Homo sapiens: one gene and its partners. The protein of the gene in region 1 purifies or fractionates together with the protein of each later gene. This does not show direct contact. Each region holds a gene or a part of one and is shown in the gene's direction. Other genes may lie near its edges.

Evidence for each region. The genes of interacting proteins can lie anywhere in the genome.
Region 2: the proteins of BFSP1 (region 1) and PIBF1 purify together in Homo sapiens (affinity purification with mass spectrometry; one large-scale study listed by BioGRID and IntAct). This does not show direct contact.
Region 3: the proteins of BFSP1 (region 1) and CCDC18 purify together in Homo sapiens (affinity purification with mass spectrometry; one large-scale study listed by BioGRID and IntAct). This does not show direct contact.
Region 4: the proteins of BFSP1 (region 1) and SCLT1 purify together in Homo sapiens (affinity purification with mass spectrometry; one large-scale study listed by BioGRID and IntAct). This does not show direct contact.

The regions. Positions count from the first base shown.
Region 1 is NC_000020.11:17,496,893-17,500,379, reverse strand, and holds part of BFSP1 (filensin), read left to right. Parts: intron 1-1,339; coding exon 1,340-1,560; intron 1,561-3,356; coding exon 3,357-3,442; intron 3,443-3,487. UniProt on the Homo sapiens protein: Required for the correct formation of lens intermediate filaments as part of a complex composed of BFSP1, BFSP2 and CRYAA. Involved in altering the calcium regulation of MIP water permeability.
Region 2 is NC_000013.11:72,823,633-72,827,132, forward strand, and holds part of PIBF1 (progesterone-induced-blocking factor 1), read left to right. Parts: intron 1-3,377; coding exon 3,378-3,486; intron 3,487-3,500.
Region 3 is NC_000001.11:93,208,224-93,211,723, forward strand, and holds part of CCDC18 (coiled-coil domain-containing protein 18), read left to right. Parts: intron 1-2,578; coding exon 2,579-2,703; intron 2,704-3,500.
Region 4 is NC_000004.12:129,003,040-129,006,539, reverse strand, and holds part of SCLT1 (sodium channel and clathrin linker 1), read left to right. Parts: intron 1-2,663; coding exon 2,664-2,799; intron 2,800-3,500. UniProt on the Homo sapiens protein: Adapter protein that links SCN10A to clathrin. Regulates SCN10A channel activity, possibly by promoting channel internalization.

The DNA.
Region 1 (3,487 bases):
ATCCTATATGCAGTCCATTGTTGACTGCAGTACTGTTATGTGGCCCATGACTGAGCATTTGTGGGTCTTTGTGTATCATCACAACCTCTTACACTGAATATAAAACTATCTCTTTCTGTTTTCCTCCCTTAATTTTTACTTGCTCTGATTAATGTACTGTATTTCTCTGACATTATTTTATGTGTACACAAGGGCACACACATACACCTTAGCTACCAAAACATAAATGTAACTCTGCCGATCCAAACTCGGGAGAAAATCAAAGCTGAATGAGAACAAGGAAACTTTTCTCCCACTCAGTATTTCAATAAAGGTAGCATCTTATCTATTTAGTATGTGCTTCTTTTTACTTATTTTTTTGCTATCAGATTTATGCTTGTTCATTAAAGTCTGAAGAATGTACTTTATTTGAATTATACATATTATTCCACCGATAGCAAGTTTTTTTTCTTTTTCTTTTAGACAGAGTCTTGCTCTGTTGCCCAGGCTGGAGTGCAATGGTGTGGTCTTGGCTCACTGCAGCCTCTGCCTCCCAGGTTCAAGTGATTCTCCTGCCTCAGCCTCCCAAGTATCTGGGATTATGGCGTGTGCCACCACTCCCAGCTAATTTTTGTATTTTTAGTAGAGATGGGGTTTCACTATGTTGGCCAGGCTGGTCTCAAACTCCTGACCTCAAGTGATCTGCTAGCCTCGGCCTCCCAAAGTTCTGGGATTACAAGTGTGAGCCACCTGGCCTAGGTTTCGTTTTATTTTCTAGGTTTGTCTTCAGACTGCCTTTGGGGTGGGCCTCCTTATGGACTAATTGCAGAGGGTGCTGATATTAGTGCAAGAAGGGCTGGGTGCGGTGACTCGCACCTGTAATTCCAGCACTTTGGGAGGCTGAGGTGGGAGGATCACTTGAAGCCAGGAGTTTGAAACCAGCCTGGGCAACGAAGTGGGACCCTATCACTACCAAAAAAAAAAAAAAAAAAAAAAAGCCCAGCATGTTGGTGCTTGCCTGTAGTCACAGCTACTCAGGAGGCTGAGGTGGAAGCCTTTAGCCTGGGAGGTCGAGGATGCAGTGAGCCGAGATTGCACTCCTGCATTCCAGCCTGGTGACAAAGTGAGATCCTCTATCAAAAAAAAAAAAAAAAAAAATTGTGTAAGGACACAGGAGCTCAGTTTTCACATTGCTTTTTAGCTTAAGGATTCCAAAGTGATTCATTGCTAATCTCGAATGGACAGAGAAACACACAAACAACATAAAACATTCACCGAGTCCAGGTTCCTTTTCCTGGTGAGGTCTGTCTCTTAGAGAAGAAGGGGGATGGATTTTCTTACAGCGTGTCCTTGCCCACAGACAACAACTCTGGAACAAGCTATTAAAAGTGCCCATGAGTGTTATGACGATGAGATTCAGCTTTATAACGAGCAGATTGAGACACTGCGCAAGGAGATTGAGGAGACAGAGCGGGTCCTGGAGAAGTCTTCTTACGACTGCCGGCAGCTGGCGGTCGCCCAGCAAACCCTGAAGAATGAGCTGGACCGGTATCATCGTATCATCGAGATTGAAGGCAACAGGTGAGCGTGTGCCCTCCCCATCCAGGCCACTTATTCCTTCCACAACTCTTTATTGAGTGCCTATTGTGTGCCAGGCACAGTTATAGGCAGTGGGCATGTGTCAGGGAAGGAAACAGAACAATTCCTGACCCCATGGGTGTTGGATAACTAGTAGGGGAGACAGAGGATGAAGGTACGACCAGTGCTGAGGAGGAAGTTCCCGCAGGGAGGAGGGTGGTGGCAATAGGGGTGATGGGGGAATGCTTGCAGTTTTAAGTAGGGTGGTCAGAAAAGGCCTCACTGAGAAGCCTGTGTTTTGCTCATAGGCCTCTGGGGACATAAGTGTCCCAGCAGGTGGGATGCCCAGGAGTATTTAATGAGGTGCTGCAGGTGAGCTACGTGGCACGGAGCCTGGCACTTGAGGGCACTCAGAGGTGTTGGTGATGCTCCTGCTGCCATCCTCACAATTCTTAGCACCTTGCTGAGTCAGTCTGTGGCTGTGACTATGTGGCTGTCTGGTCTTCTCCATAATGGAGCTGTGAGTCGATCCCTACTCACTTTAAGAAAGCTGGGAAATTCTCTCTTTCTCTCCAGCTATGCTGGTATTCATAGCTACGGTGATTTCCAGAGAACGGGTTGGGAATTAATTTGTGATTCTTCACTTCAGTCTTGCTAAATTCCTGGGTTTCGACTGAATGAAAAGAGAAGCCCCCCACAACTGAGGTCCCCACCAGGAGCAGCTCTTCCCTTCGCGCTGGGTGCTCTCTCTTGGCTGTGAGCACTCGAATGCTTGGCAGGAGAAGCAGGATTTTATTTTTCTTTCTCCAGTGCTGGTCGGTGTATCTGGCATGATTCCACATTATATTTATGTCACAGTGAACACTATGCACACATCTGCAAGAATAAGTCTGGAGCTGGCATTTCGGTGACTTTGTAAACATTTTTGTTTTGGGACAGGGCTTCACAGAAAGGTGACTGGATACCTCTTTTATTTATCTATAAGTTCTGATTTTGGTCTAATTTTAAATTGATAGAAATGTTGCAAGAATAGAACAAGGAACTCCTGAATACTCCAGATTCACCAGTTGTTTATATTTTATCTCAATTGCTTTATCATTTTTTCTCTATTTATATATGATGTGTGTGTGTACATGTATATGTATATATGTATATACGTATATATGAGTAGATATATGTATATATGTATATATGTGTGTGTATATGTATATATACGTATATATATACACGTATATATATACGTATATATACATATACACACACATATACATATATACACACATATATACATACGTGTGTGTATATATATACGTATATATACGTGTATATATATATACACACGTATATATACGTGTGTGTGTGTATATATATATACATACACGTATATATACATATATCTTAAGTTGGAGATATCATACTCTGTTTGCCCTAAATACTTCAGCCTGGGTTGACTACTCTAACTAAAAAAATCAAAAAGGCAAAAAAACAAAAGGCAAAAAAATAAAAAAGGCACTGTCTCATGGAGAAGTGGCATTTTTAGGTTATAAGCAATCCCCACTTTACAATTTTTTATAGGTATGTTTCACAGTTTATGACTCTTGAGCTCAAAGAAATGATCACTTCCTTTATGTCCTCATCCAGTATGTAAATGTGTGTATGGCTGTCTGTTTAAAATGATATCTAATTCGTGAGCAATTTGGTCTAGAGAAAGCTTTTTTTTCATTTTTGCTCAACATTAACGAGAGTCGCTCTTGCCCCTGACCTCTGTTTGGCTTGTTCTTTCTGGTTCTTTCTGCCAGGCTGACCTCTGCCTTCATTGAAACTCCCATTCCCCTGTTCACCCAGAGCCATGGAGTCTCTCTCAGCACTGGATCCGGTGGGAAAGGTAACGCTCCCCAACACTGGACTTCTGTTTTTTTCTGTCTTGAAA
Region 2 (3,500 bases), on another chromosome or scaffold:
CATTATTAAAAGAAATTCAAATGCTTTTCAGTAGCAGAATGGAAAATAAATTGAGATTTACTCTGCAATATAATTTTATGTAGCAGTTAAAATCATTAAATTAGATCTGAATGTATCACTTTTTTTTACTAAAAGTTCCTTATTTTCTGGCATAACATAATGTTCCTAGTTTTGGTTTTCGTTTGTTGGTTTTGTAATTTCATTGCCTCAGCTCTTTGTCTAAGAAGTCTTGATCTCTTAGTGGGGAATGCTATTTAGAAATTTAGGATTTGGGTGCTATGGTCATGGCTACATTGGTCATTATTTCTAGGCCCTTTGAGTAGGCAGAGAAAGTAGAGGGAGAATGAGGAGGAGGCTTAACACACTATGGATGAGATCATACTGATACTTCTTTTTTTTGAGACAGAGTCTCACTTTGTCACCCAGGCTGGAGTGCAATGGCACGATCTCGGCTCACTGCAACCTCTGCCTCCCAGGTTCAAACAATTCTCCTGCCTCAGCCTCCCAAGTAGCTGGGACTACAGGTGTGCGCCACCATGCCCAGCTAATTTTTTTTTTTTTTTTTAAGTAGAGACATGGTTCCATGGTTGACCAGACTGGCCTTGAACTCCTGACCTCAGGTGATCTGCCCACCTTGGCCTCCCAAAGTGCTGAGATGACAGGTGTGAGCCTCTGCACCCAGCCCACGTTGATACTTCTAATTCCAATTCAACACTGCAACAGCCACTTGGATGAGGTGCCAACTGGCTAAATATAGCAAACTTGAATATCACAATAAATATTGGCAATAATGAATTACAGTCCATTGAATAGAATAAGAGTTTATAAGTGCAGGCTAATAATAAATACAGAAAGAGGATCTTAAAATTTTTTTAATACATCATCTTTACCATTTTTAAGTGTACAGTTCAGTGGTAATAAATATATCCTTTTTGGGAAAGAGGATCTTTATGGTTGAAATCCAAGCAATAAATGTATATGCATGTAAGAATGACCATTTTGTAGCCGCATAATAATATTGATTCAGAATCATCATTGGAATATAAAACCATGAAGTATAAGTATGTTAGGGAATAGGATATTTACACAAAGCATCTCTTCACAATTACTTACTAATTTTAAAGGGCAAAAGGATACCTTTATAGTTAAACTCTGGCAGATGCTACCTTAACCTAGTGATCAAAGTTACTATCACCAATAATGGGATAAACTGACGTCACATACCTCAGTACATCTTCACATAACATACTGAGAATGCGTTTCTGTATCAGAGAATCATTTCTGAGAATCATTTCTGTAGTATTCCTGCCCAAGTGCCTAACCTGAATCTAATAATGAAGAAACTTCAGACAAGTGAAAATTGAGGAGCATTCTATGATGCAGCTAGCCTCTGCTCTATAAAAAGTCATAAAACACAAGGAAAACTAAGAAATCTTCAAGGTTAAAGGAGACTAAAACCCCATGACATCTAGATGCATGGTAATAGATTATAATATGATGATAATAGATCCTTGGATTACCATTATGGTAATAGAGCCTTGGCTCAGGGAAAAAAAAATTCACAAAGGGTGTTTTGGGAGACAGTTGACAAAATTTGAAAATGGATTGTATGTTAGATAATATTATATTAGGGCTAAGTCTCCTGAATATGATAATTATACTGTGATTATATAAGAGACTATCTTTAATCTTAGTAAATTCACACTAATTATTTAGGGATAAAGGGACCTAATGTCTCAGTTGAGGAAACAAATGCACATGTATGAGTATGTGTGTGTAGGTGTGTATACACATATAGATACATGACCCTTGACCAACATGGGGTCCACTTATATTCAGGTTTTTATCAACCTAACACCAATCGAAAATACAATTTTCACGGGATGTGAAACCTGAGTATACAGAGGACTGACTGTTTGGTGGGATCTGCAACAACTGCAGGACTTCAGCATGTACAGATTTGCATATTCAGGTTGTGGGGGTGGGTCTGGAACCCATTCTCCACATATACCGTTAAGACACCTGCATATATTCACATATATTAACAAGAGAGAGGGTTTGAATAAATATGACAAAGTAATATTTATTTAATATTACAAAACAAATACAACAGTGTTAATGATTGGTAAGTAAAAGCATTAAAAAGAACCAAGCTGGTTACAGCGTGTCATGTCTGTAATCCTAGTGCTTTCAGAAGCACAGGCAGGAGGATCACTTGAGCCCAGGACTTTAAGACTAGCCAGGGCAATATAGCAAGACCGTCTTTACAAAAAAAAAAAAAAAATTAAATTAGGCACATGGTGGCATGCACCTGTAGTCCTAACTCTCTGGCAGGCTGAGGCTGGAGGATCACTTGAGTGCAGTAGTTCAAGTCCAGTCTGGGTGACATAGCAAGACCCCCATCTCATAAAAAAAAAAAAAAATTTAAAAAAAAGATTTTTTAAAAAATTGCATGTGAAAGCACAAAATAAAATTTAAAAATTTTTTTAATTAAAAATAATCTAAACATTCTAAAAATAAAAAAGCACAAAATACGTATAGTAATATGTATCAGAATAGTAATACTGATAGTCATCTTTACTTATTGGGTTTGTAGGTGATTGTTATTTTGTGCTTTGCTCAGTTTTTCTTCAATAAACATAATATTTTGTTAACTAGAAGAAAAAAGGCTTTCTAAACGTTTTTGAAAAACTGATGCAAAGGAAAACAATTCCTAACAGCCCTCTCTGTGGAAATACCAGGTGGGTCAGTGAAATAAAGTGCAAAGGCACTGCTTCTGACTGCAGGGAAGTAGTTAAGAGTTAGTAAATCTGTTTCTCTGCTCATTTTAAAAAATGTGTGTTGTAGGTTTTAGTCCAATTCTTGGTATAACTTTTTTGGGGAACTTGTCTTAAAATGGAAATTAAAATCTGGGTAATCATAAACAATTTGTGAATGAAATAGTCACAAGAATGCCTGCCTACGTATCTACTATGCAATCTAAATGATAAGTTGTATTTTTTTTTTTACCTTAACTGAACTGAAAGCCTAGAGCCATGTATACATTCTTTAAAAGTTTTAACCTCAAGATAAGATTGAAGATGACTAATGAAAAAATACCAAATGTATGTTAGTAAGTTTTATTATTTACTGTACTGGCTTATGTAGTTTGTATATTCCTTAAAGGTAATAAATTGATATGTATGTATTTGAACAAGGTCTGAAACAGAGTCCCTTCTAAATCTGAAAAGTAGGTACTTTATAGTTCATGGAATTACACTGAAGCCCCATTGCTAGTGTCTCTATTCAGCGTCCTAATACATAGTCAACCCTTTTAAAGTGTACGCTGTACAAGGGGATGTAAAATTTACATGTCTCTTTGAATTTTATTTTAACAGTGAACGTGATGCACTTGAACAGGAAGTAATTGAGCTTAGGAGAAAACATGAAATACTTGAAGCCTCTCACATGATTCAAACAAAAGAACGAAGTGAATTATCAAAAGAGGTAAGCTTATAATT
Region 3 (3,500 bases), on another chromosome or scaffold:
GGTTCCTGTTTCTCCACTTCCTTGCCAACACTTGTTCTTGTCTGTCTCTTTTATTATAACCATCTTAGTGGGTGTGAAGTGGTATCACATTGTGGTTTTTCTTTTTTTTTGTTTGTTTGTTTTTTTGACGGAGTCTCTCACTCTGTTGCCCAGGCTGGAGTGCAGCAGCATGATCTCAGCTCACTGCAACCTCCACCTCCCAGGTTCAAGCAATTCTCCTGCCTCAGCCTCCCTAGTAGCTGGGACTACAGGCACAAGGGACGGGGTTTCACCACATTGGTCAAACGGGTCTCGAACTCCTGACCTCATGATCAACCCACCTTGGCCTCCCAAAGTGCTGGGATTACAGGCGTGAGCCACCATGCCTGGCCCTAATTTACATTTTTTTTAATGGCTCATGATGAGCAACTTTTCATGTACTTATTAGAATGGCATAGAACTTAAAATTTTTTTTCTTTTTTTGAGATGGAGTCTCGCTTTGTCGCCAGGCTGGAGTGCAGTGGTGCCATCTTGGCTCATCGCAACCTCTGCCTCCCGGATTCAAGCGATTTTCCTGCCTTATCCTCCCAAGCAGCTCAAACTATAGCACGCACCACCATGCCCATCTAATTTTTGTATTTTTAGTAGAGACGGGGTTACACCATGTTGGCCAGGATGGTCTTGATCTTTTGAATTCGTGATCCCCCTGCCTTGGCCTCCCAAACTGCTGGGATTATGGGCGTGAGCCACCATGCCCGGCCTTTTATTTTTTTGAAACGAAGTTTCACTCTTGTTGCCCAGGCTGGAGTGCAATGGCGAGATCTTGGCGCACTGCAACCTCAGCCTCCTGGGTTCAAGCGATTCTCCTGCCTCAGCCTCCTGAGTAGCTGGGATTACAGGCATGTGCCACCATGCCCAGCTAATTTTGTATTTTTAGTAGAGACAGGGTTTCTCCATGTTGGTCAGGCTGGTCTCGAACTCCCAACCTCAGGTGATCTGCCTGCCTTAGCCTCCCGAAATGCTGGGATTACAGGCATGAGCCACCACGCCTGGCCTAAAATGTTTTTATAATAATGGTCTACCACCTTTTCTCTTTTAGTAATATTTGTGACCATATATATAAATGAGATTAAGAAGAAGGTAAGTAAACCTATTCAGGAATTTGTAATCAATAGGTGTAAAATGAAGGAAAGATCAGGGGAAACTATAGGTAAATATATTATGGTTGGTTTCAGATATGAATGTATGGTAGACTAGATGGTAGACTTACCAATGTTAAACTGTTATGAACTGTGGAATTATGAACCAAAAAAATCTCAGAAATCATCTGATTCAATACTATTTTATTGGTGAAGAAACCTAGACCCAAGAAAGTAAATAACTTGCCCAACTGGTAAGTAGTAGAATTTAAACTAGAACATAAGATCTTAGCTCCTCTGATATCTGCTTTCCCAGGATGCTGTTTATTTGCTTGGATTTTTAATGTACTGTTTGCTTTTGAAATTAGAAAGTAATCATATACAGATAACAATTTTAATTTGGCATTCTCATTTGTGTATCAAGAATTATTTCATATATGGTCAGGCACAGTGGCTCCTGCTTGTAATCCCAGCATTTTGGCAGGCCAAGGTGAGAGGAACTCTTGAAGCAAGAGTTCAAGACCAGCTTGGGTAATACAGTGAGACCCTGTCTCTACAAAAATGCAAAAATTAGCTGGGCATGGTGGCGCATGCCTGTGGTCCTAGCTACTCGAGAAGCTGAGGTAGGAGGATTGCTTGAGTCCAAGAGTTCGAGGCTGCAGTGAGCTCTATGATCATAAGCTCCAGTCTGGGTGACAGAGTGAGACCCTGTCTCTCAAAAAAGAATCATTTGAGATATGATTCCGAATGTGGTAATGTATGCTTGATCGTTTGTTTCTTGTAGTGCTAAGAATGACACGATTAGAAAATGTGATTTTTTTCTACTTCTAGGAGGTGTGATTCGGTTATAGTTTGAAGGTAGAAGTCATTAAATGCTAACCTTGCTCCTTTTTATAACTGTCTTTTAAAATTCTGTATTATCCAAACATACAGAAAGGTGCATATGCTAGTGTAGCACCTTATTTGTAAAATTTGGGACACATATTGTCTTATCAACTCTATGTTTTTTTAGAATAAAATTTTACAGGTAAATCTTCTTTGTGTACCTTGTCAGATCCCAATTATCTTCCTCTCTCCTCAGAAATGGCAATTATTCTGAAATTCATGTGTATCCTTCTCGTCCATGTTTTAAATATTGTCACATATCGATGCATCTAGAAATATATATATGTTGCTTAGTGTTTTTATGAAAATACTGTTTGCCACTATAATTTGTTTTTCACTCAATATTGTTATGAGATGTATCCATACTGATTTATGTGACTCAGGTTTATTTCTTTTAACTATTGTAGTTTTCCAATTATCTTAATATTTCTTAATGTATTTATATATTCTCCTATTGATGGACATTAAGTTGTTTCCATTAAATTCATACAGTTTTTAAAATTTGAAGTTCTGAATAAAAAAGCAAATGCATCTCATTTACATAAGTTTACATATGTTTGTTTTTAAACTTGCAGTTAAAAAGAGAATTATTTGGCTTTAAATCATATCTTTCTAAATACCAGATGAGTAGCTTCTCAAACAAGGAAGACCGTTGCATTGGCTGCTGTGAGGCAAATAAATTGGTGATTTCGGAATTGAGGTACAATTTTCAGATTCTGCAGTTATAGCAAATAGAATGTTTTTTATTGGTAATTAAGACCCTTAATTGGCCGGGCATGGTGGCTCATGCCTGTAATCCCAACACTTTGGGAGGCTGAGGCAGGCGGATCACGAGGTCAGGAGTTCGAGACCAGCCTGACCAACATGGTGAAACCTCGTCTCTACTAAAAATACAAAAATTAGCCAGGCATGGTGGTGGCACGCGCCTGTAATCCCCACTACTTGGGAGGCTGAGGCAGGAGAATCACTTGAACCCGGGAGGCGGTGGTTGCAGTGAGCTGAGATAGTGCCACTGCACTCCAGCCTGAGCAACAGAGTGAGACTCCATTAAAAAAAAAAAAAAAAGACCCTTAATTGAGGAATTTAAAAAATATACAGAAAAGCTCAGAGAATATTATAACAGGTATCTGTGATTCCACAACTAAGAATTGAATCTTCTTAACCAGGATTGATTCTCCTTAAAATTTGTGGTATTTGTTTTAAATCTGTTTCTCCAAATAAAAAATAAAACATTACAGGATGAATAATGCCCTTTGATCCTTATGACTAGTCCCATTTTTCCCCTAAGTATCCACCATCATGAATTGGATATATATTTCTCTATTCATTTTTGTATGTTTACACACATGTACACAAATATGTACCGTATACTGTGTGCAATTTTGCTTTTTCACTCAGCAGTATTTAAAAAATTCATTCATATTGAGATAGAGTAGATTAACAAATGGATTTGTGTAATTACTTTTAATAGCTGTATAGGATTCTGTCCTATAACAG
Region 4 (3,500 bases), on another chromosome or scaffold:
TTGAGACAGAGTCTTGCTCTGTCGCCCAGGCTGGAGTACAGTGGCTTGATCTTGACTCACTGCAACCTCCGCCTCCTGGGTTCAAGCAATTCTTCTGCCTCAGCCTCCTGAGTAGCTGGGACTACAGGCACACGCCACCATGCCCGGCTAATTTTTGTATTTTTAGTAGAGACGGGGTTTCACCACATTGGCCAGGCTGGTCTCGAACTCCTGACCTCGTGATCCACCCACTTCGGCCTACCAAAATGCTGGGATTACAGGTGTGAGCCACCGAACCTGGCTAAAAATTTTAAGACCCTAAAAACTGTCTTACTGTCAGTTATAATTATACTGCTTGTTATAACTACATTTTTTTATTAAATGAATTTTTTTTATTATACTTTAAGTTTTAGGGTACATGTGCACAATGTGCAGGTTAGTTACATATGTATACCTGTGCCATGCTGGTGTGCTGCACCCATTAACTTGTCATTTAGCATTAGGTATATCTCCTAATGCTATCCCTCCCCCCTCCCCCCACCCCACAACAGTCCCCAGAGTGTGATGTTCCCCTTCCTGTGTCCATGTGTTCTCATTGTTCAGTTCCCATCTGTGAGTGAGAATATGCGGTGTTTGGTTTTTTGTCCTTGCGATAGTTTACTGAGAGTGATGATTTCCAATTTCATCCATGTCCCTACAAAGGACATGAACTCATCATTTTTTATGGCTGCATAGTATTCCATGGTGTATATGTGCCACATTTTCTTAATCCAGTCTATCATTGTTGGACATTTGGGTTGGTTCCAAGTCTTTGCTATTGTGAATAATGCCGCAATAAACATACGTGTGCATGTGTCTTTATAGCAGCATGATTTATAGTCCTTTGGGTATATACCCAGTAATGCAATGGCTGGGTCAAATGGTATTTCTAGTTCTAGATCCCTGAGGAATTGCCACACTGACTTCCACAATAGTTGAACTAGTTTACAGTCCCACCAACAGTGTAAAGGTGTTCCTATTTCTCCACATCCTCTCCAGCACCTGTTGTTTCCTGGCTTTTTAATGATTGCCATTCTAACTGGTGTGAGATGATATCTCATTGTGGTTTTGATTTGCATTTCTCTGATGGCCAGTGATGATGAGCATTTTTTCATGTGTCTTTTGGCTGCGTAACAAAGAAATAAGACACTTTAATTCTCAGTGTTTCTGATATTTTAAAGTACAGTGTACTAAATATTAATTTTACTATTTTTTCATTTCATTTTACAATCAATTTAAAGGATTAGGATAATTGATAAGTTATGATGCAGATAACCATATGATGAAAATGATGGAATATTATGTCATCTTTAAAATATTTGCAGAAAACTTTTTAGAATGTGAGAGAATGCATATGTCTGAATACTACGGTTAAAAAGACAGATTATAGTATTAGCAATACAGTATGTCATTGGTCTATTTTTAATGGAAAGTAAAAATTCTGCTAGAAAATATATTACAGAATTAATAATGGTTTTTTTCATAGGACTTGGGGTATCTTTTCTAAAACTTGTTATATTTCTATACTGATCATTTTCTCTATTAGGTAAACATTTCATATAGGAAAAATAAAAGTTTTTAAAAACACTGTTAGATATTTAAAAATAAAAACTGTCTTAACCAATACTTGTAAGTTTTTTAATTAGAGAATAATTTTCAAGCTCTGTCCTTTCTTCAGAGTAATTAATTTTTTTGTTTCTAAAGTGTTTACCTTCTCAGTTTTATTGTATTTGATGAATTTTGTTTTCAATAAATATGTTTTGACATCAAGATTTAAGTTTTCTTGTTTCAAAGGAGATTTGTAATATTAGTAAATCATTCACCTCTAAATGTTTTAGGTAGATGGATGTAGTTTATTTTGTTATTTTCACTTTGTAATGTATTTACTATAAATATTTTCTGCTTATGATTATATGAAATAAGAGTGTTTTCTGAAAATGTACTTTTTTTCTCTTAAGTATGTATTATTTTAAATTAAAACAATCATTCTTTTAAGTTGTACCTTCCTTGCTTTTTTTTGTAGTTAAGGCATGAAATATCTGTAATTTACCTTAATGTTAAGATTAAAGTCAATTTTAAGCCTTTCAGTATTATTGTTGATCTTATATAAGGATGTGCTGAAAAATAAAGCTTCTGATGTCTTGGTTTTATAGCCAGCGACCATTTTCTTCTCTTTGCTTGTTAACTGGAATTAGTAAGAAGTCCAGTGAGTTTGGTGAAACACGCTGAAGAAAATAGCAAATAATTCTACAGGATTTAATATATAATTTTCATTTAATTGACTAGATATACATAGATATTTTAGAATTTTTCTGAATGGCTTATTTTATCATTTAATAAGAGATAATATCTGAATTTTACTCTTTTGAAAATTTTTGAAAAATTGAAACCTCTCTAGGACAAACTGAATCATGCTTCAGTTAATTGTGATCGATTTAATGCATTGAAATTGTTATATAATCTTTTGATTCTTATAGCACAGTATTTAATGGTAATTAAACACTTCTAATTTTTTATTTGAAGTCTACTTAAAAATGATTTTGTTTAAAGAGTTATTGTTGACCCAAATGTTTAATTGACCTCGAAACAGTAATTACTGTTACGAAAATGACTTGAGGCTATCATGTTAACTATTTGTTTCAAAGGTTGCACAGTGAATTAAAAGATGCTGTTGAAAAAAAATTGGAGGCCTTTCCCCTGGGCACAGAGGTAGGAACTGACATATATGCAGATGATGAAACAGTCAGAAACCTTCAAGAACAATTGCAGCTAGCCAATCAAGTGAGTGACATGTATTTTTAAAAATTATATTCTGAATTAACATACCTTTTTAAAAATTCATGTTAATCATTATTTATGGATAACAAAATAATAAAATTGTAACATTATGATTTTTTACAGTTTATAAGAATCGTTACAGGTAGCAACACTTGTAATAAATACCCTCACTGTTAGAAACGTACTTGCCAAATACCCTCACTGGTTGTTACAAATGTGTTTAATTAAAATCATAAAGATTTTGACGTGAGTTTTTTTCTTATGAGAATATTTTTTCTTTCTTTTTTTTCTTTTTCTTTTTTTTTTTTTTAATTATACTTTAAGTTCTAGGATACATGTGCAGAACGTGCAGGTTTGTTATATAGGTATCACATGCCATGGTGGTTTGCTGCACCCATCAACCCATCATCTATGTTAGGTATTTCTCCTAATGCTATCCCTCCCCTAGCCCTCAACCCCACAACAGGCCCTGGTGTGTGATGTTCCCCTCCCTGTGTCCATGTGTTCTCATTGTTTAACTCCCACTTATGAGTGAGAACATGCAGTGTTTGGTTTTCTGTTCCTGTGTTAGTTTGCTGAGAATGATAGTTTCCAGCTTCATCCATGTCCCTGAAAAGGACATGATCTCATCCTTTTTTATGGCTGCATAGTATTCCATGGTGTATATGTGCCACATTTTCTTTATCCAGTTTATCATTGATGGA